Linked DNA regions of Homo sapiens. The protein of the gene in region 3 purifies or fractionates together with the protein of the main gene of each other region. This does not show direct contact. Each region holds a gene or a part of one and is shown on either strand. Other genes may lie near its edges. The genes, in order: DHX30, DHX40, KDF1, FBLL1, XRN1, ZNF664 and SLC25A13.

The links.
Region 1: the proteins of KDF1 (region 3) and DHX30 purify together in Homo sapiens (affinity purification with mass spectrometry, with the first as the bait; one large-scale study listed by BioGRID). This does not show direct contact.
Region 2: the proteins of KDF1 (region 3) and DHX40 purify together in Homo sapiens (affinity purification with mass spectrometry, with the first as the bait; one large-scale study listed by BioGRID). This does not show direct contact.
Region 4: the proteins of KDF1 (region 3) and FBLL1 purify together in Homo sapiens (affinity purification with mass spectrometry, with the first as the bait; one large-scale study listed by BioGRID). This does not show direct contact.
Region 5: the proteins of KDF1 (region 3) and XRN1 purify together in Homo sapiens (affinity purification with mass spectrometry, with the first as the bait; one large-scale study listed by BioGRID). This does not show direct contact.
Region 6: the proteins of KDF1 (region 3) and ZNF664 purify together in Homo sapiens (affinity purification with mass spectrometry, with the first as the bait; one large-scale study listed by BioGRID). This does not show direct contact.
Region 7: the proteins of KDF1 (region 3) and SLC25A13 purify together in Homo sapiens (affinity purification with mass spectrometry, with the first as the bait; one large-scale study listed by BioGRID). This does not show direct contact.

Annotation. Positions count from the first base shown.
Region 1 is NC_000003.12:47,841,138-47,844,637, reverse strand, and holds part of DHX30 (ATP-dependent RNA helicase DHX30), read right to left. Parts: coding exon 3,460-3,500; intron 3,022-3,459; coding exon 2,901-3,021; intron 1,533-2,900; coding exon 1,383-1,532; intron 1-1,382.
Region 2 is NC_000017.11:59,568,610-59,572,109, reverse strand, and holds part of DHX40 (probable ATP-dependent RNA helicase DHX40), read right to left. Parts: intron 1,593-3,500; coding exon 1,447-1,592; intron 1-1,446. UniProt on the Homo sapiens protein: Probable ATP-dependent RNA helicase.
Region 3 is NC_000001.11:26,950,469-26,953,968, forward strand, and holds part of KDF1 (keratinocyte differentiation factor 1), read right to left. Parts: intron 3,486-3,500; exon of another isoform or gene 3,378-3,485; intron 1,945-3,377; 5' UTR 1,913-1,944; coding exon 874-1,912; intron 289-873; coding exon 214-288; intron 1-213. UniProt on the Homo sapiens protein: Plays a role in the regulation of the epidermis formation during early development. Required both as an inhibitor of basal cell proliferation and a promoter of differentiation of basal progenitor cell progeny.
Region 4 is NC_000005.10:168,527,843-168,531,134, forward strand, and holds FBLL1 (RNA 2'-O-methyltransferase FBLL1), read left to right. Parts: upstream 1-1,462; 5' UTR 1,463-1,662; coding exon 1,663-2,667; 3' UTR 2,668-2,792; downstream 2,793-3,292.
Region 5 is NC_000003.12:142,420,538-142,424,037, forward strand, and holds part of XRN1 (5'-3' exoribonuclease 1), read right to left. Parts: intron 3,106-3,500; coding exon 3,023-3,105; intron 2,386-3,022; coding exon 2,298-2,385; intron 2,214-2,297; coding exon 2,045-2,213; intron 1,007-2,044; coding exon 939-1,006; intron 617-938; coding exon 479-616; intron 1-478. UniProt on the Homo sapiens protein: Major 5'-3' exoribonuclease involved in mRNA decay. Required for the 5'-3'-processing of the G4 tetraplex-containing DNA and RNA substrates. The kinetic of hydrolysis is faster for G4 RNA tetraplex than for G4 DNA tetraplex and monomeric RNA tetraplex.
Region 6 is NC_000012.12:124,011,215-124,013,570, reverse strand, and holds part of ZNF664 (zinc finger protein 664), read right to left. Parts: intron 2,191-2,356; 5' UTR 2,130-2,190; intron 2,026-2,129; 5' UTR 1,427-2,025; coding exon 641-1,426; 3' UTR 1-640. UniProt on the Homo sapiens protein: May be involved in transcriptional regulation.
Region 7 is NC_000007.14:96,315,599-96,319,098, forward strand, and holds part of SLC25A13 (electrogenic aspartate/glutamate antiporter SLC25A13, mitochondrial), read right to left. Parts: intron 1-3,500. UniProt on the Homo sapiens protein: Mitochondrial electrogenic aspartate/glutamate antiporter that favors efflux of aspartate and entry of glutamate and proton within the mitochondria as part of the malate-aspartate shuttle.

The DNA.
Region 1 (3,500 bases), on a different chromosome or scaffold from region 3:
CCCCCAACAGGGGCCAACCCCCTGCCTCTGGGCGTGCTGGCACCATCAGCTATAAGGACCTAAAGGACAGGAATCTGGTCCTCATACCACAGGAGGTGCCAACACAAGCTCCTTGCTGCAGGAACAGGCTTCTGCCCTCTCCCCAGACTTCATGGGTTTTACCCACCAGCCTCACTGACAAATGGCCCTCCAGCCACTGCAAAGCTTGCTCCTTCCCAGACAGGCCCCTACCATGCCAAGGTGCTTCTGCTCACAGTGCGTGTGCATCAGGCCAAAGCTCAGATGCCTCCAGTTCTACTCAGTCCTTGTTCTGCCCTCGAGTCACAGGTAGCATATCTGTGCCCTCTTTATCTCACCAATTGCCTGTCCCCTCTTCCTCGTCTTTCTCCAGGTTCTTGTTACCTCTCACCATCAGCTGTAACTAAAACATGGTTCCCAGAGCCAACTGTACCCATGAAATGGTGCACCTGACCATTCAGAGTAAAGCAGGCCCATTTCTATCTTGGTCTGCAAACTAAACCTCCACCAACATGGGTTGAGATTACTAACTCCTCAGGCAGTCAGAGACAATCCCAACTCCCTCCCACTACTGTGCCATCAGCTAACTCCACCAGCCCCTTTCAAGAGAACGGCCATGGCCAGGAGCGGTGGCTCACGCCTGCAATCCCAACACTTTAGGAAGTGAAGGTAGAAAGACTGATTGAGCCCAAGATTTTAAGACCAGTCTTCGCAACACAGTGAGACCCTTGTCTCTACAAAAAATGTTTAAAAATAAGCTGGGAGTGGTGGTGCATACCTATGGTCCCAGCTATGCAGGAGGCTGAGGTGAAAGGATCGCTTAAGCCTAGGAGATCGAGGCTGCAGTGAGCCATGATCGTGCCACTATACTCCAGCCTGGGCCACAGAGACCCTGTCTCAAAAAAAAGAGAACTGCCAGCTGTCTGCCACACTGTCTCTACCTTGATCCTGACTGCTTCCTCAATCATCACTGCAGTCACAAGTCACATTATTCATTCTGCCCACAAAACCCGGGTTATCAGGATCATACTGGACACCAGGTCTGCCTCTCAAAACAGGCCCGGCTCCTCCCGGCTTTATACTATTCAGAACAATGAGCAAGTTTCCTCCCGGCCTCACCAGGTTCAGGCCAACAGTGTGGAAAATGCTGGGTCACGGGCAAAGTATCTCCACAGGGCCTCTGGAAAAGCCATGGCAACAGCCACAGGGCCTACAAGCGAGGCCTGCATACCAGCTGTCTTTGTGCCAGGCAAAAGGCCTGCTGTGGTGGTTTCATTTCCTAGAAAATGGGACCCATTTGCCACTGGCAGAGGGGAGCTTCAAGACATTCTCATGCACCACACCCAGGACCTTCCTGGACTCACCTTCAGTTTCTTGCAGGCCAAGGCTGCCGCCTTATTCTCAGCCTCTGCTTTGCGGCGCCCTTTGGCAACAAAGGTCATGGGGCAGGGCCAGAGCAGGGTGAGTGTAGACAGCTTGGTCTTGGTGCCCACAGTATGGAACTGCATGAGGTTCTACATGGAAGGCAAGAGAGATGGTTACAGAAATGTAGGGAATGGGAAGAGACTTGGGGCATTCTCAGAATGCCAAGGAGCCCAGAGACAGAATGAGCCACCATCTCAGCAGGTGCCAGGCGTGAGCCATGCTAGAGGTGCTGCTGCATAGCCAGGAGCAGGCCCATGGGCTCAGGCACCCTAGTCCCAGGCTCGCTTCTCCTGCTATACCTCGACTTCCACTGCAGAAGACAGTGCTTGGGCAATGCCATCACCTGCCCTCCTAGCCCACTGTCATCTCGGCAACATCGTGGCAGCTGTGGGTTGAAGCTGTCAGCATGAGCTAAAAACCAGGCACATCCTGCGGGAGCAAAAAGACCCTGCACCTGGACAGAAGCTCTGCTTAACTGTTGTACTTAGGCGAGTTAAGGAAACGCCACACTTTGAGACGAATTAAGAGTCCTTTATTAAGCCGGCGGCCAAAGAGACAGCTAATGCTCAAAATTCTTTCGGCCACGAGGAAGGGGCTCGATTAACTTTTATACTTAGGTTTAGGAAGGGGAGGGGGACTTAAATGTAATAATTCTACAGAAGTAAAAACATGCAAGAATCAAAAGAATCAAAATGGTTACAGAGTGATAAACAACTTAAAAGACAAATGGTTACAAGAAGAGCAACAGTACCAGGTGCAAGATTCTAAATCTTTCATTATAATTAGATATAGGGTCTACGCCAGACACGAACTCAAGGTTTTATGTTGTTATCTCTTGGAGAAAATTCCTGGGAACTTCATATATTGTTGGTGTTCGTACCTTATCAGTTAATTAGGCTCCTTTGAAATGCTGAGGATCTGTTTACCCAGGCCAACTCCTTACGAAAGGGGGTTGGGTGAGGAGCCCTTAGTGTCTTGTAAATTAAGGGGTCAATTGGGGTTTGTACGGCTTTCTTAGCTAGAGAGAGTCTTATTTTACATGAGAAGCAAGGCTAGGTGATTAAAGAGACAAGCAGGACAAAATTCAAAGCAACGAGTTAAAGTAAAAACAAGGTTAGGCATTTCATGACCAAAGCCCCTTCGCCTGGCAGCAAGAGAGAAATTCATACCTCACCAAGACCCACACCTCTAACCCTTCCCCACTGACAATCCACCGCCCAGAAGAGGTATGGGTCTTCTGCTCTTGCGGCCCCCAAGCCCACTCCCTGTGCTGCTGAGGCTTGACCTCCATTCCATCACACCTGCTGCTTTTCCTCCCAAGCAGGAGTTCCTCCACCTGGCCTAGGTTTGGGCTGGAGGAACACACCCCCTCAGCCCTCTCTAAACCTGCCTTTAGGGAACACCAGACATGACCAAGTAAACGGCCCCCACACAAACTTCTAGGAGACCCAACTCACCTTAGCTGTGGAGGATGACGTTGCAATCTGAATCACCTTGGCCAGAAGGTTCTTGGGAAGTGGAAACTGGGTCAGAGCCCTAATGGCACTGTCGTCATCTGTCATCTCAAAGGAACTCCCCCTGGGAGGACCAAAAGTTTAACTGAAAGAATTCTCTCTTCCTGGACCAATTTCCCTGAGGCTCTGCGATGTAGGGGTGAGGACGCTGCGCTGCAGCAGGGAGCCAGAAGGGCAGAAGGCATGAAATGGATGGGAAACCGGGCGTCTCTGCTCCTCCCACAGCCACACTGCATGGGGACTGCTCCCTCCATTCCCTCACACAGATAAGATAGCAGAGAGCAGGGGCTCCATGCTGCTGTTCTGCAAAAGCCCAGCCACATAGAAGACCACAGCTGGCTGTCCCCCAAGAATGGGCAGACACACACTGAGTGATGGGGCACACAGGCTGAAATGTGAGGCAGGGGCGCTCCCATCTCAGAGAAAGCTAGCAGAGAACATTCGCCCATCCCCGTGTCAAGGCACAGCCAGCCTCTGCTGCATCCCCATCCTCCATCTGTACCTTGAGTCCCTGAGTGGAGCGTGGGAATCCTGCTGGGTCAT
Region 2 (3,500 bases), on a different chromosome or scaffold from region 3:
AATTTGTTGGTGCCATGAATATAGAAGATGCTTTAACACTTGCTGATTTTGTTAATTGGCTGATTTTGTTAATTCAGCTTTCCATTGACTTCAAGAATACAAACACATAAAATAAATCAACCTGAAAACATGCTCAGTGAAATAAGAGTGACACGAAGTACAAAATATTGTGTGATTCCACTTGAATGAGGTACCCGGAGTAGGCAAATTTGTAGAGACAGAAAGTAGAACAGAAGATACAGCAGGGCGCGGTGGTTTACCCTGTAATCCCAGCACTTTGGGAGGCCGAGGTGGGCAGATCACAAGGTCAGGAATTTGAGACCAACCCCATCTCTACTAAAAATACAAAAAATTAGCTGGGCGTGGTGGCAGGAGCCTGTAAACCCAGCTACTTGGGAGGCTGAGGCAGGAGAATCACTAGAACCTGGGAGGCAGAGGTTGCAGGGAGTGGAGGTTGCGCCACTGCACTCCAGCCCGGGCAATGGTGTGAGACTTCGTCTCAAAAAAAAAAAAGAAGTTACCAGAGGCTAGGGGGAGGGAGAAATGGGGGTTTTAATCTATAAGAGTTTCTGTTTGGGATGATAAAAAAAGTTCTGAAAGTAGAAATGGTGATGGTTACCCAACATTGTGAACACATTTTTTTTTTTTTTTTGAGGTGGAGTTTTGCTCTTGTTGCCCAGGCTGGAGTGCAGTGGCGCGATCTCAGCTCACCGCAACCTCCGCCTCCCGGGTTCAAGCCATTTTCCTGCCTCAGCCTCCTGAGTAGCTGGGATTACAGGCATGCACCACCGTGCCCAGCTAATTTTGTATTTTTAAAAGAGACAGGGTTTCTCCATGTTGGTCAGGCTGGTCTCGAACTCCTGACCTCAGGTGATCCACCCGCCTCGGCCTCCCAAAGTGATGGGATTACAGACGTGAGCCATCGAGCCCAGCCCATTGTGAACATACTTAATGGCACTGAATTGTATACCAAAATAGTAAAATGGTCGATTTTAAGTTATATATATTTTACTACAATAAAACATTTTAAAAACCTACATGTCAAGAATCCTTACAGTTAAAAAACATAAATAAGAGAATCCTAAGAAAATAAACTGTCATTTATAAACTAAGGAAGGAGAAAATGGGATGAACATCAGACACTTGAGAGCTAAAGCATTAACAATGAACAACAAAAATAAATTCTTTAAAATATATATTGAACTTTGAAGTTAAAAATCTTTCAGAACTCTCTCCACTCTTTCTGTTAAGTTTATAACATTAGCTGGGCATGGTGGCATGCTCCTGTAGTCCCAGCTACCCAAGGGGCTGAGGTAGGAGATCACTTGAGCCCAGAAGGTAGAGGCTACAGAGAGCCATGATTGCGCCACGCACTCCAGGCTGGGCGACAGAGCAAGACCCTGTCCCATAAAAGAAAAGAAACAAATACCAACAAGACTTTTGTACCTTAGAACTGCAATCATCAAAACGAACTTGGTATCCTACTTTGGATCCCAAAGTGCATTTCATTTCTTCAGCTACTCTCTGAGCAACTGATATAGCAGCTACTTTTCGTGGTTGAGTTACACCAATCATACCATGTTGTGAAAACCCTATCAAAACCAGAGATAAAGAAACACAACAATGTTAGCAATTGTCTTCCTATTAGAGCTAAATTGTTTTTGGCCAATCAACACAAAACTGCTTGAATGTTTCCAAAAGAATATCTCGCAAATTAAAAACACACTGCTATGTTTGCATCATGGAAATTTAAATATTAATTTAAAATAATACATATTAATAACCATGCAAAAATATATTATATATATAATATATAAATATATATAATATAAATCCAGTTTATATTATATATATTTATATATTATATATATTATATACTAATATATATTTAATATATAATATATATTATAATATATTATATATTATATATATTAATATATAACATATTATATGTATTATATAATTTATAATATATTATATATAAATATACATTATAATATATTATAATATATACTATATATTATATATAAATATACATTATAATATAATGTATATTATATATATTTAGACAGAGTTTTGCTCTTGTTGCCTAGGCTGTAGTGCAATGGCGCAATCTCGGCTCACCGCAACCTCTGCGTCCCAGGTTCAAGCAACTCTCCTGCCTCAGCCTCCCGAGTAGCTGGGATAACAGGCATGTGCCACCATGCCGGGCTAATTTTGTATTTTAGCAGAGACGGGTTTTTTCCCTGTTGGTCAGGCTGGTCTTGTACTCCCAACCTCAGGTGATCCACTTGCCTCTGCCTCCCAAAGTACTGGGATTATAGGCTTGAGACACCACGCCCAGCCAAAACAAAAAAAAAGAAAGAAAAAATTATATATATATCTATATATATATATAGATATATATATATTTTTTTCTTTTTTGAGACGGAGTATTGCTCTGTTGCCCAGGCTGGAATGCAGTGGCGCGATCTCGGCTCACTGCAACTTTCACTTCCTGGGTTCAAGCGATTCTCCTGCCTCAGCCACCTGAGCAGCTGGGATTACAGGCGCTTGCCACCAGGCCCAGCTAATTTTTTTGTAAAAAATATATTTTTTAAATTAGAATTCAGGCTTTGTCTGTTTTTTTCTGTCTAAAAATCTACTCTAAAGGTAAGCCAAGAATTTTGAAACATAAGAATTCATAAAATTCCACACACTTCCCAAAATAAATTTACTTTTGCCACAAGAGTAAAACTGGATTTATTTATTTATTTATTTATTTATTTATTTATTTATTTTTGAGATAGAGTCTTGCTCTGTTGCCCAGGCGGGAGTGCAGTGGCACAATCTCGGCTCACTGCAACCTCTACCTCCTGGGTTCAAGCAATTCTCCTGCCTCAGCCGCCTGAGTAACTGGGATTACAGGTGCGCGCCACCACACCCAGCTAATTTTGTATTTTTAGTAGAGATGGGGTTTCACCATGTTGGCCAGGCTGGTCGCAAACTTCTGACCTCAAGTGATCCATCTGCCTCAGCCTCCCAATGTGCTGGGATCACAGGCATGAGCCACTGCACCCAGCCTAAAACTGGACTTAAATATGCCACCTTTCTGCTGGGAGCAGTGGTACACACCTGTAATCCCAGCTACTCAGGAGCCTGGCTACTCAGAAGGTTGAGGTAGGAGGATTGCTTGAACTCAGGAGTTTGAGATCAGCCTGGGCGACATAGTAAGATCTCATCTCAAAAAAATAAATAAATATATATATCTATATTTATATATATATATATATGCACCTTCCATATACCATTTTAATATATTTGGGAATGGAGCTGCATCTTAAAATCGATGGCGCATTTCCATTCTTACTAATACAGTAGTCCCTCTTTACCTTTGGTTTTGCTTTCCAATTTTTCAGTTACCTACAGTCAGTGGAGGTCCAAAAATGTTACAGTACTTTGAGAGACAGAGAGAGACCACATTTACAAAAGTTTTACTACAGTATATTGTCATAACTGCT
Region 3 (3,500 bases):
TTGGGGTCTGATCACTTTCAGCTTGCCTGTTCTGGGCACCTGCACCCACTTTAAGCCAGCTTGCTAGATGGAGACAGGTCTGTGGCTGCTTAGGTCCCCGTCCCTTTTTGATGTCATCCTCATCACCCCAAAAGAAAGCTGGGAGAGCAGCAGGTGAGGGGCCCCTAGGGTAGTCCCCCACCCTCCACACCCCTCATTAGGTCAAGACCACACCTGGAGCTCCATAAGGCCTCAGCTTCCGGGCGATGGCATCTGCAGTCGTCTCCTGGGAGATCTGCACTGTCAGCTCTAGGGAGGGAACGTGAGGCAAGCAGTGGTCATTAGCACGTTCTTTCAACCCTATTTCCTACTTCTGTTCCCAGCCCGATGAGGGAGGAGCCACTCACTCCTGGGCAGGGCTAGAAAAATAATGCTTAAAGACAGAGACATAGACAACGTGTGCATGCGCAGAGTGATGGATGAGTGGGAGTTTTGGTTAGCCCAGAACAGGTCAGAGGCCCAAATTCATGTGGGTCCCTAGGTCCTGTTCACCAGACCAGGCCTAGAAGCTACTCTGGCAGGAGACAGCAGAGGAGAGGAGCCTTTTGGGTAAACTTGTTGAATGCAGAGGGAACCTTGACCTTTCTGGGGACAGCAGCGATGGCCAGAGAGCTCTCCCAGGGTCTGCATGCTTCTCTCAGCCTTGCTCGGACCTCACCAGGAAGGGCCAGAGTGGGAGCTGGGGAGAGGGGATGCAAGAGTTGACAGAAAGGAGGAGGAAAGGCAGGGACTGGCTGAGGGGTAGACCCACAGTGACTAAAGACCCCATTCCAACCCTCCCCTGGCCAGAGCCTCCCCTACTCTGCCCCTCAGCCCCATGGGGCCCCCACCTACCATCCTGGCTGAGACCTGAGCCCACCATGGTCTCATGGCCACTGTCAGGGGCAGCAGCGGTTGGGGCAGCAGCCCGAGTTGAACGACCCTCCGAGGTCTGTGGGCGAGCACGGCTCTTTCGGGTACTAATGCGAATGATGCCGCGTACCAGGCGGCCCTCAGCATCCTGCTCATCCAGGTGGTAGTCCTGCGTGATGCTGCTGATAAGGTCCGAGATCTTACTGGTCTTCTCCAGGAACACAGTGTCTGATGTGCACTTGGCCAGCTCATCGATCTGGTGTACGCTGAACAGCTCTGTCAGCTTCTTGAAGATGAGCACATCAATTTCTCGGCTCGACATGGAGCCACTGCCCATCTCCGGCAGGTCCAGGTCCGACTCATGGAAAGAATAGTACTCCTCGGAGCCACGAGGACTACTGGCAAAGGTGCTGGGCAGGCTGTGTCGCATGGGTGGGGGATCGGCCAGTGGCTCCTTGCAGCAGGAGTCCGCATCAGGGGCTGGGGAGGTGGCCCTCGGGTAGGGATACACAGGGATGCCTTTGAGCTTAACATCGGGGTAGCTGAAGCTGCTGCCCATGGTTGACTTGAGCCGCTGGCCATCCCGCCGGCTGGGGGGTGCACGATCAGGGCTGGGGGGCACTCCATTGTGCTCCTTGGCCCAGTTGGCTTCAGCAGTCCCCTCAGTGGAGTCCTCAGTAGACAGGCAGGGGCTGCATCCCCGCACACAGGCTCCACAGCGCTGGAGGCAATCCCGGCAGCGGCGGAAGCAGAAGGCAGCCCGGCACCACTCCCACACCCAGGGTCGCCAGAGCAGGCAGCAGGTGGGGGACTCAAGGGCCGGCTCAGCAGAGCCAGAGATGAAGGTAATGCTCTCTGGCCCATGGTGGCCAGGGTCCTTGGGGTCTGGTCTACGGGTGCGGCGGCTTGGTGGGGGCTGAGGTGGTTTATCATATGTCTCCAGACATAGCTCTGTTGGCCGCTCCCACGGTCCCAAGCGTGGAGGCCCAGATGCTGGGCGGGGGTGTCCAGGGCGGGGCATGGCTCATTGCATGGTTTGTAGCAGCCAGGCACCTGCGTGGGGAGAGGCCAGGAAGGAGTCAGGATCAGAGGTGAGGGACAAACTCCTGGGCTGACTTGAGCAGCTTCACATTTCTAGTTTCTGAGAGGCCTGGGATGTGGATGGACCCAAGTATGCCCAAAAACCCTTGCCTGGGATGTGGATGGACCCAAGTATGCCCAAAAACCCTTATCTCTTGTGGCCCTCCCTCCACAAAGAGAAAGTCTCTGTGGTCTAACCCAGATTTCAAAATTCCCTGTGACTTAGACCTATTGGGATGGCTATGAAAGGTTGAACATTGGCCGGGCGTGGTGGCTCACGCCTGTAATCCCAGCACTTTGGGAGGCCGAGGCAGGCAGATCACCTGAGGTCAGGAGTTCGAGACCAACCTGACTAACATGGTGAAACTCCGTCTCTACTAAAAATACAAAAAAAATTAGCCAGGTATAGTGGTGGGTGCCTGTAATCCCAGCTACTTGGGAGGCTGAGGCAGGAGAATCGCTTGAACCCGGGTGGCAGAGGTTGCAGTGAGCCAAGATCACGCCATTGCACTCCAGCCTGGGCAACAGGGCGAGACTGTGTCTCAAAAAAAAAAAAGAAAGAAAAAGAAAAAAAGAAAGGTTGAACATCTTATCTGAAATGCTTGGGTCCAGAAATGTTTTGGATTCTGAATTGTGGATTGTATACATTATACTTACCTGTTAAGCATTCCTCATCCAAAAATCTGAAATGCTCCAATGAGCATTCCTTTAAGTATCATGCTGGTGCTCAACTTTCAGATTTTGGAGTGTTTTGGATTTTTGGATTAGGGATACTCAATCTCTCAATCTGTATTTAAAAATAATCTCCCTTCTCCCAGAAAATAATGAGTGTTGGCAATAATGTGGAAAAACTGGAACCCTTGTGCATTTCTGGTGGGAATGTAAAATGGTGCAGCTGCTATGGAAAACAGTACGGTGGTTCCTCCAAAAATTAAACATCGAATTACCACACGACCCAGCAATTCCACTTCTGGGTACATACCCAATCTAATTGAGAGCAGGGACTCAGATGTTTAGACAATGTTCACAGCAGCATTATTCACAATAGCCAAAAGGTGGAAACAATCCCAGTGTCTACCAATGGATGAATGACTAAACAAAATGTGGTATATACATACAATGGAATATTACTCAGCCTTAAAAAGGAAAGGAAATTCTTATACATGCTGCAACATGGATGAACCTTGAAGAACTTATGCTAAGTGAAATAAGCCAGACACAAAAGGACAAATAGCCCGGGTGCGGTGGCTCATGCCTGTGATCCCAGCAATTTGGGAGGCTGGGATGGGTGGATCACTTGAGCGCAGGAGTTCAAGACCAGCCTGGCCAACATGGTGAAAGCCCATCCCTACTGAAAATACAAAAATTAGCTGGGCGTGGTGGTGCACACCTGTAGTCCTAGTTACCTGGGGGACTGAGGTGGGAGGACCACTTGAGCCTTGGAGGTGGAGGTTGCAGTGAGCTGAGATCGTGCCATTGCACTCCAGCCTGGGCAACAAAGCCAGACCCTGTCTCAAAAAAAAAAAAAA
Region 4 (3,292 bases), on a different chromosome or scaffold from region 3:
CTCTATTATTCAAGGTTCTCCAAAGACACAGGCCTGTAGGATATATATATGTGTGTATATATAGGATATATATTGGCTCATGTGATTGTGGAGACCAGCAGGTCCAAAATCCGCAGGGCCAATGTCCCAGTCCAAAGGTTGTCAGGCAGAAAGAGCTGATGTGCCAGTTGAAAGGCCCTTGGGCAGGAGAATTCTCTCTTCCGTGGGGAAGGTCAGCATTTTGCTTTATTTCTGCCTTCAACTGATTAGATGAGGCCCAGCCACATCGTAGACGGCAATCAGCTTTACTCAATATACCAATTTAAATGTTAATCTCATCAAAAAACACCCTCACAGAAACACTCAGAATACTATTTGACCAAATATCTGGGCATCCCATGGCCCAGTAAAGTTGACACATAAAATTAACCCTCACAGACACCAAGTGTAGTTCATCATTTTGGAAAATATTCACCTTATAGCAAGAATGGAAACCTCTAAGTAGAGTATTTTATGTGAACCATTCAACCTCAGGAATCATACATTTCACTCACTGATCCCTTGTTCACATTCCAGTGTATAAAACTCTGGTCCCCATTAAGGAGACACTCCAGTCCTCAGGGAAAATCAGACCTGGCACTGTCGTCCATGAGTATGAGACGGGAAGAGCTGTGGTCCAGGATGGAACGGAAGTCATACTGCACATACCAGGTGTTCAGTAAATGCTCCGATCTTCAGGTGCGCGTTGTCTCTCTCTCTCTCTCTCTCGAGTAGACACTTAATTCAACTAACGGGAGGCTGGCCAGTTGTTTCACCACCTATCCTACTTTCCCCAGCTCTTGTGTGGTTCCCAAAGCCCCTAGCAGTAGCCAAAACGGGGGCCCCAACTGCTGTCGCTGTCCCTGGTGCTGACTAAACCCTAAAGCCTCTGCGTTGCGGCCTTGGGGCCATTGGTGGTGCCGAGTTATTCTTTTATTTTCTTTCTGTTCTTTTCTTTTTTTCTTTTCTTCTCGTTGCTGCCCTTGGTGCTGCCCAATTATTCTTTTCTTTTCTTCTCCTCTCCCTCTCTCTCTTTTCTTTCTCTCTCTTTCTTTCTTTTTCTCTTTTTCTTTCTTTCCTCAAGAAAATGCTGCAGATTTAGAGAGTGACTTTGAAGCATAGACTAGACTTCGAGGATGAACATGACATTTTGGCTCTCTGTGTATCCCCATTCACACTGAAGAATCAACAACACTTCCTTGCTGATCAATAGTCCCAGAACTGGTGGCACAGCCAGGACCGACGCTGATGCTTACCTCCCCCTCTCCTGCAGCAGAGACGCCCCCGTCCCTGTGGCCCAGGGAAGTGCCAGGGATCCCTGGGAAGGCGGGAGATGGGGAAGGGGCAGGGTGAGCGAAGAGGAGCAGGCTGCGTCTGCACGCGGGCTGGGAAGCGGGGCTTCCGGGCCGCAGGGTCGCGGGGACGGGTGTGATGCAATCGCGCCACAGCCGCTGCGTCAAGGGGCGGCTCCGGGATGCGGGCACTGCGGTAGAGCCCGTCCTGCCCCCGCCGCCCGCCGCCCGCCGCCCGCCTCCGCTGCTAAACCCGCGGACAACCGCCGGGACGACCACCCAGAGCCACCAGAGCCCCCTGACACCCGCCCCGAGGCACCGGTAACCCACGGCACCCGCCCCGGTGCGTGCCATGAAGTCGGCCGCGAGCTCGCGCGGGGGCGGTGGGGGCGGCCGCGGGGGCGGCGGCTGGGGCAGCTGGGGCGGGGGCCGAGGCGGCGGCGGCGGCGCGGGCAAGGGCGGCGGGGGCGACGGCGGCGGCCAGGGGGGCAAGGGCGGCTTCGGGGCGCGGGCGCGCGGCTTCGGCGGGGGCGGCCGGGGCCGGGGGCGCGGCGGCGGCGACGGCAAGGATCGCGGCGGCGGTGGACAGCGGCGGGGCGGCGTGGCCAAGAGCAAGAGCCGCCGCAGGAAGGGCGCCATGGTGGTGTCGGTGGAGCCGCACCGGCACGAGGGCGTCTTCATCTACCGCGGGGCGGAGGACGCGCTGGTCACGCTGAACATGGTGCCGGGCCAGTCTGTGTACGGCGAGAGGCGCGTCACGGTGACCGAGGGCGGCGTGAAGCAGGAGTACCGCACGTGGAACCCGTTCCGCTCTAAGCTGGCCGCGGCCATCCTGGGCGGGGTGGACCAGATCCACATCAAGCCCAAGTCCAAGGTGCTGTACCTGGGCGCCGCGTCGGGCACCACCGTCTCCCATGTCTCCGACATCATTGGCCCAGACGGCCTGGTCTACGCCGTCGAGTTCTCCCACCGCGCCGGCCGCGATCTGGTCAACGTGGCCAAGAAGCGCACCAACATCATTCCGGTCCTGGAGGACGCGCGGCACCCGCTCAAGTACCGCATGCTCATCGGGATGGTGGACGTGATCTTCGCCGACGTGGCCCAGCCGGACCAGTCCCGCATCGTGGCCCTGAACGCCCACACCTTCCTGCGCAATGGGGGCCACTTTCTCATCTCCATCAAGGCCAACTGCATCGACTCCACCGCATCCGCCGAGGCTGTGTTTGCTTCTGAGGTGAGGAAGTTGCAGCAGGAGAACTTGAAGCCTCAAGAGCAGCTGACCCTGGAGCCCTATGAGCGGGACCACGCTGTGGTGGTCGGGGTCTACCGACCTCTTCCCAAGAGCAGCAGCAAATAGCACCCAGCTCAGGCTCGCCTGCCATCTCCCCAAGGCTGCGTTGTGTTTGCTATTATTTTCTGTGTGTTTTCTTTGTGAGTGTTTTGTTTTGTTGTTTTTCTATTAAACTGCATAAAGAAACGGCACCTATCTGTATGGTGATGCCAGGCTAGGTTTTGCTGCAGTAACAATCAACCCCCAAATCCCAGTGGCCTAAACCGGCTGGTATAAGGGGCCCATCCAGCAGTAGCCTGGGAGCTGTGCTCATTCTAATCACTCAGGTCTCCAACTCCCCAGGGCCCCATTTTCACACATGCTCCCCCCATCCCTAGGGCAGAGGAAAGAGAGCTGCGGAATTGCTAATAAAAGCTTTTAAATGTCCCCTTGGAACTGATGGGGCACTTCTGCTCACATTTGGCCAAGTCACATGACCCAGCCTGACTCGGGAAAAACACTGAATGTTGGTGGACAATAATATAGTCAAACACACCAATCATCTGACTCACAGCCAAAGTCTTAACCACAATAGGTTTTTAGTATTTTACTCTTCAACTAAGCCCTTTTGCATTCACTGTTAAAGTGAATAATAAATAAATGTTAAATTTATTCCTCACACCAGCCCTGAGATGGCTTTGTTAGCACTTGC
Region 5 (3,500 bases), on a different chromosome or scaffold from region 3:
ATTTCTGTTTTTTTAGTAGAGATGGGGTTTCGCCACGTTGGCCAGGCTGGTCTCAAACTCCTGACCTCAGGTAATCCACCCATTTTGCCTCCCAAAGTGCTGGGATTACAGGTGTGAGCCACTGCACCTGGCCTTAAATAATTGTTTTTAATAACATGTTTTAAGTAATTTTTTTAAAAAGCCCAGAAAATAATTCATTTTCTGGGCTTTTATGTTTAGAAATGTTTTCCACATTTATTAACATAAAACACAATGTACCTCTTCAACAGTAAAAATAAGGAACTGATTATTGAAGATCTCATTAAATGACAGAAGCTAATAGAAAAAAAGAAACCAAATCAATTTCTGAAATGCCTATAGAGAGGAAGAGAAATAAAACGAGGCAATCCCAAATCATAAGAAGGAAAATGAGAAACAAAGAATATAATTTTTGCCTTTACAGTTAAAACAATGAAAGGACACCTAAAAAAATAGACACCTTTAACTTTTTCTTTTCCTTGTAGTTCCTGGCTTCTTCTGCTGCGACACCTGCTGCTTCATTGAGGTACTTGTTACCAACTTTGCTTTCAAACCATTTTAGGTCCACAAAAACTTCACTGAAGTGCTCCCGATCAAACTGTACAGAAATATTTAAATTTATTTTTAAATAATTTAAGTATATCTAGAAGAATACAAATCAAACTTAAAACAGTGACTACTACTGGGGTATAGGAAATTGGAGAATGTTACTCTTTTATATATATGGGAGACCTCATGTGTTACTCTAAAAATACAAATAGAAAGCAAATAAAAATAAAATTAATTTAGGTAAAAGTGTTTATATTGAATAAGCAATTGGAATAGAATTATAAAACCCCTTTCTTCTGGTATTACATAATTGGTGACTGATCATTTACAGCTACTCTGCGACAGGAAACCAAAAATTTCTAGTTACTTACATCTGATAGTTTCACAAGGTATTTCTCAAATCGAGGTAAGTTGAGGTGCCCACTTTCATTAATATAACCTAAAAGAAACAAAAATTTAAATCTGTACTAAAAGCTGACATTTTTTCTAAACAATTCTACAAAACTCTTTCTACAAAATGTTGAATGTTCATGTTCTACAGTACTAATCAAGAAAAAACAGTGTTGGACTATATCCAAACTGGCCCTAGTTTCTGTGAATTTTATGCTACTATAATATGCAACATGTAAGCACCAAAGCCAAATATAAGAAATTCCAGGTTCCACATAATAATCCAACATTTGGTAACAATTAATTAAATTAAATATGGTCTATAATCTATCTAGATCATTTAATATGATATGTTAACTTAAGGACTGATGTTCTGCTACCCTGTGGTCTGTTTTATTTGGCATCACTATGTTTGTCAATTTTCTGTTTTCATTGAAAAATCACTGCTTCATAATAAACACTGTGATGCATATCCATTCGAAAAAAATTGAATTTCTATGCTTAAATATGAAAAAAGTAAAACCAATAAAGTATGCTGGCTTTCTTAAGGAATTAAAGGCAAAGATTAGACCGGGTGTGGTGGCTCATGCCTGTAATCCCAGCACTTTGGGAAGCCAGATCACTTGAGGCCGAAGTTTGAGACCAGCCTGGTCAATATGGTAAAACCCCATCTCCACTAAAAATATAGAACTTAGCTGGGCATGGTGACACATGCCTGTAATCCCAGCTACTCAGGAGGCAGAGGCATGGGCATAGCTTGAATCCAGAAGGCAAACGTTGCACTGTCGCCACTGCACTCCAGCCTGGGCAACAGAGCAAGACCCCGTCTCAAAAAATAAATAAATAATAAAAAAAAGGCAAAGATTAGTTAGATATCAATAATTGAGGTTCGTTAACTCTGTTCACTTTCTTTCCTTGTGAATCACTGAAAATGACAACCTCAGAGGTTAGCACCTTAGACCAAAATAAATCCTCAATGTTTTTCTGCTTTAGCGTGCATGCAATAATCTACTAAACTAAGTCACATTTTTAGGGTAAGGTGGCACTAAATTAAAGTATCCTCGAGAGATTATTAAATTCTTCTTACCCCCAAGTTCTGGCAGGATGGTAACATATGTTCCATAAAGAAGAGGCAGTGCATCATGATTAATATGTAAATGAGGTAGATGAGGGATAAAATCATTACCAACAAGAAACCCCATCAAAATCCAATCATCTATTATCCTTTCAATATCATATTTAAATGTGATCTTTTCCTACAGTAAAATAGAGAACAAAGTCAAATCCAGTGAAAATTTCTGCAATGGAAATCCTTGGTCCATGGCTTTATTAATACTTACTTTTAATACTGAAAACTCATAGTCAATATACTCTCTCATTAAAGACAAGTGTAGAAGGTGAAATGTAGTTTCTTCTGGAGCACATACCCTGGAATTAGTCAGATGATCAAGATACAGTGAATTTTATTTTTAAGGTCCCAGCTTAAAAATGTAACAAAGCTTAAATCAAAAGTATCATCAGAAGATAGTAAGGTCTTGTAATTAAGGCATACAATTTATATGAAGGTTGCAGGGTAACAAAGATAAAAATACAATTGCAATAATAGATAATACATGTTAAAGTTCAAAACAATTGGTTTACATTATGTGTTCTGTGGAAGGATTCTCAGAATTAAGAAGTCCTAAATAACATATAGTAGAAGTAAGAAACTACTGAGATCTGGCCCATTTAAGGCTGGTCTTTTCAACAAATAATGCAAGGAAGATTGGATATCCACATGCAAAAGAATGAAGTTGGGCCCTTACCTTACACTACACACTAAAATTAACTCAAAATGAATCAAAGATCTAACCATAAAAGTTAAAACTTGAAAACTCCTAAAAAAAGAAGAATAAATGAGTTGGATTATAACAAAATTAAAAACGTTTGTGCATCAAAGGACACTATCAACATAGTGAAAAGGCAACCTACGGAATGAGATAAAGTATTTACAAACATGTATCTGTTAAAGAATTACTATCCAGGCGTAATTTCTTTCTTCCAACATATATGCTATATAATTTACCGTTGTGTTTTTTTGCCACCAAATCGAACTTCTTCTCTTAAGAGAGAAAAATGTGCCTCATGACTTGTTAATCCAAGCATAATCTGTTGAAAAATGATTAAGAAATGTTTTTATTCTCCCATTTTTAATAATATTAGGTTCACAAAAGCAATTAAAAAACAATTCTATACAAGGAAGAATAAGAAACAATTAGCACATTAAATATACAAATAACAAAATATGATCTATTTGTAGGTAATGAATGAGATAAAGTGTACTTTTCTAAGAAAAATATGTTCACCTTAGCTCACATGCTTTTCATAACCATTACCCTATCCCCTGTCCCCTCTCCTCTTCCTATCCCTCCAAATCCCAAACATCTTCTCTTGGTTTTCACATATTTCTACTTGCCGTGGGGGAACTGGTTAGAAATTAGAGGCAGCAGCTTTTCTATGACCAAAGAATGCAGGACTCTTTTGGAGACCAGGATAGCCCCAGT
Region 6 (2,356 bases), on a different chromosome or scaffold from region 3:
TGCCAATGACTTTTCTGATAGGCTAAGTGAATGGGAATTATGAGTCACCTAAAATCTAAAATGAAAGTTAATGCCATCTAGGAAGGGATGGATATTTATGGGGATTTTGAGGACATATATTCAGAAATAATAGGATATATGGAAAGATATGTAGGGGCTAAATCAAGTGTTAACCTCAGAAATACCAGAACGTGATCTTAGTGGGAGCTGTCTGTTTTCCAATGCATTGCCAGTATGCTCGAATAAAGAGGAAGGAAGGGCATGAGCTCCTCAAGGGGGAGTATCTGGGATAGCTTTTAAGCAAAGTATAGATAGAAGGTGACTCAGGAGGCCGGGCAATGATTGTGGCTTTTTGTGTAGTCTTTCAACTATGGAGGCATCGTGCTGGAATCCCAGGAAGCGACGTCTGTGACTGGGACCTGAGAGCCATCCTGCGTGGATGCTCAGAGGTCCACATTCAAAGTCAACCTGTGGAACACACTTGGCATGAACCAACAAATCAATCTCACATATGCCTCCTCAGAAACAATGTTCTGCTAGGGATTGCGTAAATATTTCTTGGGTCAATGTAGGTATATACAGGGTTTCCTTCCTAGTGGCACTTATGGGTTTTAAGATTTTAAACTCTTAGCAAAACGTTTTATATAACTGATATTTTGAGATGGTTTCTCTCCTTTGTGTGGACTCTCTGGTGGATGCAGAGGCTCGTACTCTGACTGAAGGCCTTTCCGCACTCATCACATTTGAAAGGTTTCTCTCCTGTGTGGACTCTCTGGTGGATGCACAGGCTCGAACTCTGACTGAAGGCCTTCCCACATCCACAACATCTATAGGGTTTCTCTCCAGTGTGGACTCTCTGGTGGATGCAGAGGCTCGAACTCTGACTGAACGCCTTCCCACACTCATAACATTTATAGGGTTTCTCTCCTGTGTGGACTCTTTGATGCATGCAGAGGCTGGAGGTGTGCCTGAAGGCCTTCCCACACTCTTCACATTTAAAGGGCTTCTCTCCGGTGTGGACTCTCTGATGCATGCAAAGGTTTGAACTATTACTAAAGCCCCTTCCACACTCACTACAGACATACGGTTTCTCACCTGTATGAACTCTCATATGAATTTGAAGATGGGAGCTCCAATTGAAGGCTTTGCCACACTCGTAACATTTATAGGGCTTCTCCACTGTGTGGATTTTCTTATGTCTATTAAGTTTTGTTGTAGTGCTAAAATCCTTACCACAATCATCACATTTATAGACCTTCTCTCCTGTATGGTCTCTCCAATGAATATGAAGTTCTGATATATGAAAGAAACCCTTATCACACTTGTCACATTTATGGGGCTTCTCAGCTGTGTGAATTTTCTGATGCATAAAAAGATCTGCTCTCTCAGAGAAAAATTCCCTACACATGGGGCACTTGTAGATCATTTTTCCTATTTGGTATCGTGATTTCAAGGAGAAAATTTCCTTATGATTACTACAGTTACAAGACTGTTATTTCATAGAGTCTCTTATTTGGCCATTTTGGCAGTCTATCTCAGGCTTGCTCTATTAGGTAAGTTTAAGGTCAGCCTAAGCTTTTCCCTGCCTGTCTTTCTACGGAAGGTTTCTTCCTGCATAGTGTTCCTCACTCAGTATTATTATCGATTATAAAGTGACATTGACTTCCACGTGAATTCTGTAACTCATTAACACAGAACTTTGTTTTAGATCCTGAGTTGTCAACATTCCAAGGGGCTCTCAAAGTGCAAACCTTTGCGTTTTTGAGCCCCTGGAATCTTCCTCTTGTAGAGTAATCTTGTATGTCTCACTTCTAGAAAAAGGACTGTACAGTATATCCCCTGTATCGAAGGATGAGATACTGCTGGCTGGTCTCGAGCCCCTGCAGTTGCCCCTTGAAGAGTCAGTTTGGCATTCTGCCTCCTGCACATCAGACAGGAAAGCCTTTCCAGCAAGCAGGCTCCTCGGGGTCCAGGTATGGCAAGCCCTGCTTTGGGGAATTCCCTACATGGGTATCATGCCGTCTCCTGTAATAGAAACATAAATAAATAAATTGAAAATGCTTTTATCTGGAAAACTGCTATTGATTCCAAAATTAATTTTATATAAATGTGACAGCAGTAACACAAACCTTTTTTGGTCTTGAAGAAGCTCTCTTATCTTCCAAAGATGTGTCTCTTGGATTTGCAGGTCTGAAGGAGAGAATTTGTAGATATCATGCTCCTGTTTACAGCTCAAGTATATAATCCAATTACAATAACTCATTGTAATTATCTGAGCAACATCAAGGGGAACATTATTGAAAGAGAAAAGAAATCCTCAAAAAGACCTACATGTGAGTATGAAAACCAGCTGTCC
Region 7 (3,500 bases), on a different chromosome or scaffold from region 3:
AAGGCCATCCAGCTCCAACAAGATAAGAACCCCTAAAACCCAAACAGTGGAGCCATAGATATTTGTTTTAATAATCATCATCATGGTAGCATAAAAACAACTCAAACCTTCTTTCCTCCATTCCTAGCACAAAAACTGATTTGTTTTATTATGATATCACCAAATACTTAGTAGAGTTTTTACATAGGGGAGAAAAAACCCTGCCATTTGAAGAATATCTTTAATAACCTCAATATATTTTATCCTCAATGACAAACCTCTGAAGAGGGTTTTATGATGGGTGAACAATGTGGAAGACATGGAGGTTAAATATACAGCCCAAAGCCTGGGCGACATAGCAAGACCCCCGTCTCTACAAAAAAAAAAAAAATTTTAATTAGCTGGGTGTGGTGGTGTGTGCCTGAGGTCCTAGCTATTCAGGAGGCTGCGGTGGGAGGATCTCTTGTATCCACGAGGTCTAGGCTAGAGTGAGCAATAATCACACCACTGCACTTCCACCTGGGTGAGAGAGTGAGACCCTGTCCCAAATATATATATATATATTATAGTCCAAATCCTAATGGAAACTGGATTAAAGGTATATGACAGTGGTGACAGTTACACAACTCTGTGCATATATTGAAAACCAATAAATCATATGCTTTAAATGGGTAAATTGTATAGTACTTGAATTATATCTCAATAAAGCAATTAAATAAAAGGTATATGACAATTCCTGTCCTGCAGGGATTTGCGATCTGGTTGGAGAGATGAGAAATACACTTAATAAACACTGAAATGAAGCATATACAGAGTGACAAAGGTGTTCTAAGATAAGAACTACTGGACTGGGATGATCAGGAAATATACACATCCATACCCGATGGCATGTGAACTCTCACACATACACCTTCGCAAATGGAACTCTTGGTAAGACCTGGGAGAGCAGCGCAGAGGTTAAGAGCAGAGACTCTGAAGACACATTGGCAAGGTTCAAATCAAGACTGTAGCACTTACCTGTTGCACAAGCGTGAGAAATTACTTAACCTCCCCTAACTCAGTTTTCTCACCTGTAAGTTGAAGTCAAAAACAGAAAGCACCTACTTCTTAGAATTAAGAAAATTAATTGAGTTACTATTTGTAAGGCTCTTGGAAAAGTACCTGGCATGCAAAAAGCACTAGGTAAGGCAGTTCTCAAATAAAAGTCTGGTTTACACTGAGACACCTACCCCTCTCCTAAGTCATCTCCCACACCTCTCCCATATACTTTATTCTCCACCACACTAAACTACCAGGCACACATGGTGGACAGAGTGAGGCCACAGCTGCTGGAGCCAGACTGGCAGGATTTGAACCCCAGCTCGATAATTTCCTAATTATCCGATCTTTTTTATTTTATTTTATTTTTTTGAGACAGAGTCTTGCTCTGTCACCCAGGCTGGAGTGCAATGGCACGACGTCAGCTCACTGCAACCTCCGCCTCCCAGGTTGAAGCAAATTCCCCTACCTCAGCCTCCCGAGCAGCTGAGATTACAAGAATGCACCACTATGCCCGGCTAATTGTTTCCTATTTTTAGTAGAGATGGGCCAGACTGGCCAGGCTGGTCTCAAATTCCTGACCTGAGGTGATTCACCTGCCTCGGCCTCCCAAGGTGCTGGGATTATAGGTGTGAGCCACCGTACCCAGCCATACTTATCAGATCTTAGGCCACTAACATCACCTCTTGGTATCTCAGAGCCTTCATCTATAAAAAAAGGATGATAGTAACTAACTCAAAAGGCTGAGGCATTAAATGAATCAACAACGAAACACAGTTGGAACTGAATTTTAAATGAATCAACAATGAAACACATTTGGAACTGAATTTGGTATCTAGTAAGCGCTCAGTAAGTGTCAGCTGCTTTTAGTTTTTATTACCTGCTGTTAACTAAATGTAGCCTGTGCTCTCACCTCCCAGCCCTTCATTTGTTTCCAACCACTGGATTGGATCTTTACTCTTCCCCATCCATTCCTTCTGAAATACTAGCAATTTTCAGAAGACTTCCCTCATCTCCTCAGAAATGGGCTCTTCTCCTACTGCTCCCACAAACCTTGTAGTGGGAGCATTTCCATCAGAGAACTTAGCCCCCTGGAATGGTTTTGGTTTTCTTGAACATCAAAATGGAGTCCAATTCATTTTATTTATTTTATTCTATTTTATTTTATTTTATTATTTTATTTTACTTTATTTTATTTTTTTTTGAGACAGGATCTCGTTCTGTAACCCAAGCTGGAGTACAGTGGTGCTATCTCAGCTCACTGCAACCTCTGCCTTCTGGGCTCAAGTGATCCTCCTGCCTTAGCCTCCCAAGTAGCCGGGACCACAGATGCGTGCCACCATGCCCAGCTAACAATTCATTTTAGTATTCTCAATTTTGTCCCATTTGCAACACTGGAAAGAACACAATACACATAAATGAATCAATGATCACAGCAACAACTCATCCAAGAATGAAAAGTCAATACAAAGTGTACTAGTCCTACAGACCAAATTGTCTTTATTATTAATGCTTTAATGTGCCCCCAAATTTCCTTCTTTTGGTTCTAGGCTAATATTGGTCTGTGTTCAGTTTTACCCCAGAACATCTCACAGGTCTGAACTCAAGGGAGCATATTCTAACTTTTAGTAGGTTCATATAGGTTAATTACATCATTCGTAACGCATAAATTTAACCAATGACGAAGAAGAAAGCTCTCCTTTAACCAAGAAAAGGGCAGAGACGAAGAAAAGGGTGACCTCTCAATTACCACCTTTTAAAACTGTTTTTTTATGGCAGTTTTGGGAAATGTTTAAAAGAAATATTCAAACAACGCAAACAGTACAGGCAGATCTAACAAGGGAACCCACAAGGATTATTCCTACAAACGTAGGCAGCAAGAGAATGGACACTTTTTGAGATAATCTCAGAATACTAAGAGTTTTAGATTAATGTTCATTCACGAAAGAAAACAAACACTTCTTGAACCATTAACTAGTAATCTTCATAGCAAAATTCAAAATAAAAAGCAGCCAAAGACTAGATTCTCCATCTCCCCATTAAAACTATTTAAAGGAAGGTCATGAATAATTAGCTGTATTTAAATAAGTATAAAGACCAAAGAAAGAAACAGATCAGAAAACTAATTGCTAGTTGTGGCTACATCTATCCAGAAAATACCAAATCTGCTTAAATATTCAAACAATTTGTCACAGTGAGTGTAGTGAGTGTTGGAATTCTCACAGTTGCTGAGTCCCCAGAGTCTCAGCCCAATTTCCTAACAGTCCATTGAGGTGAAGTCCTCTCCTATCCAGGCTCCTCAACTTTTAAGAGGGAATGCCAACCCTACCCCTATGGCTCTGTGTTCAGCTGGCAACATGGAATAGCTATGCTCCAGGGAAAAAGCAAGGAGCACAGCCTTTAACTCAGGCTGCCAACAGAATCAACCGATAAAGGTGATGCCCAAAGGCAGTTCAATAAGGGACATTCTTGGAATAAGTTAG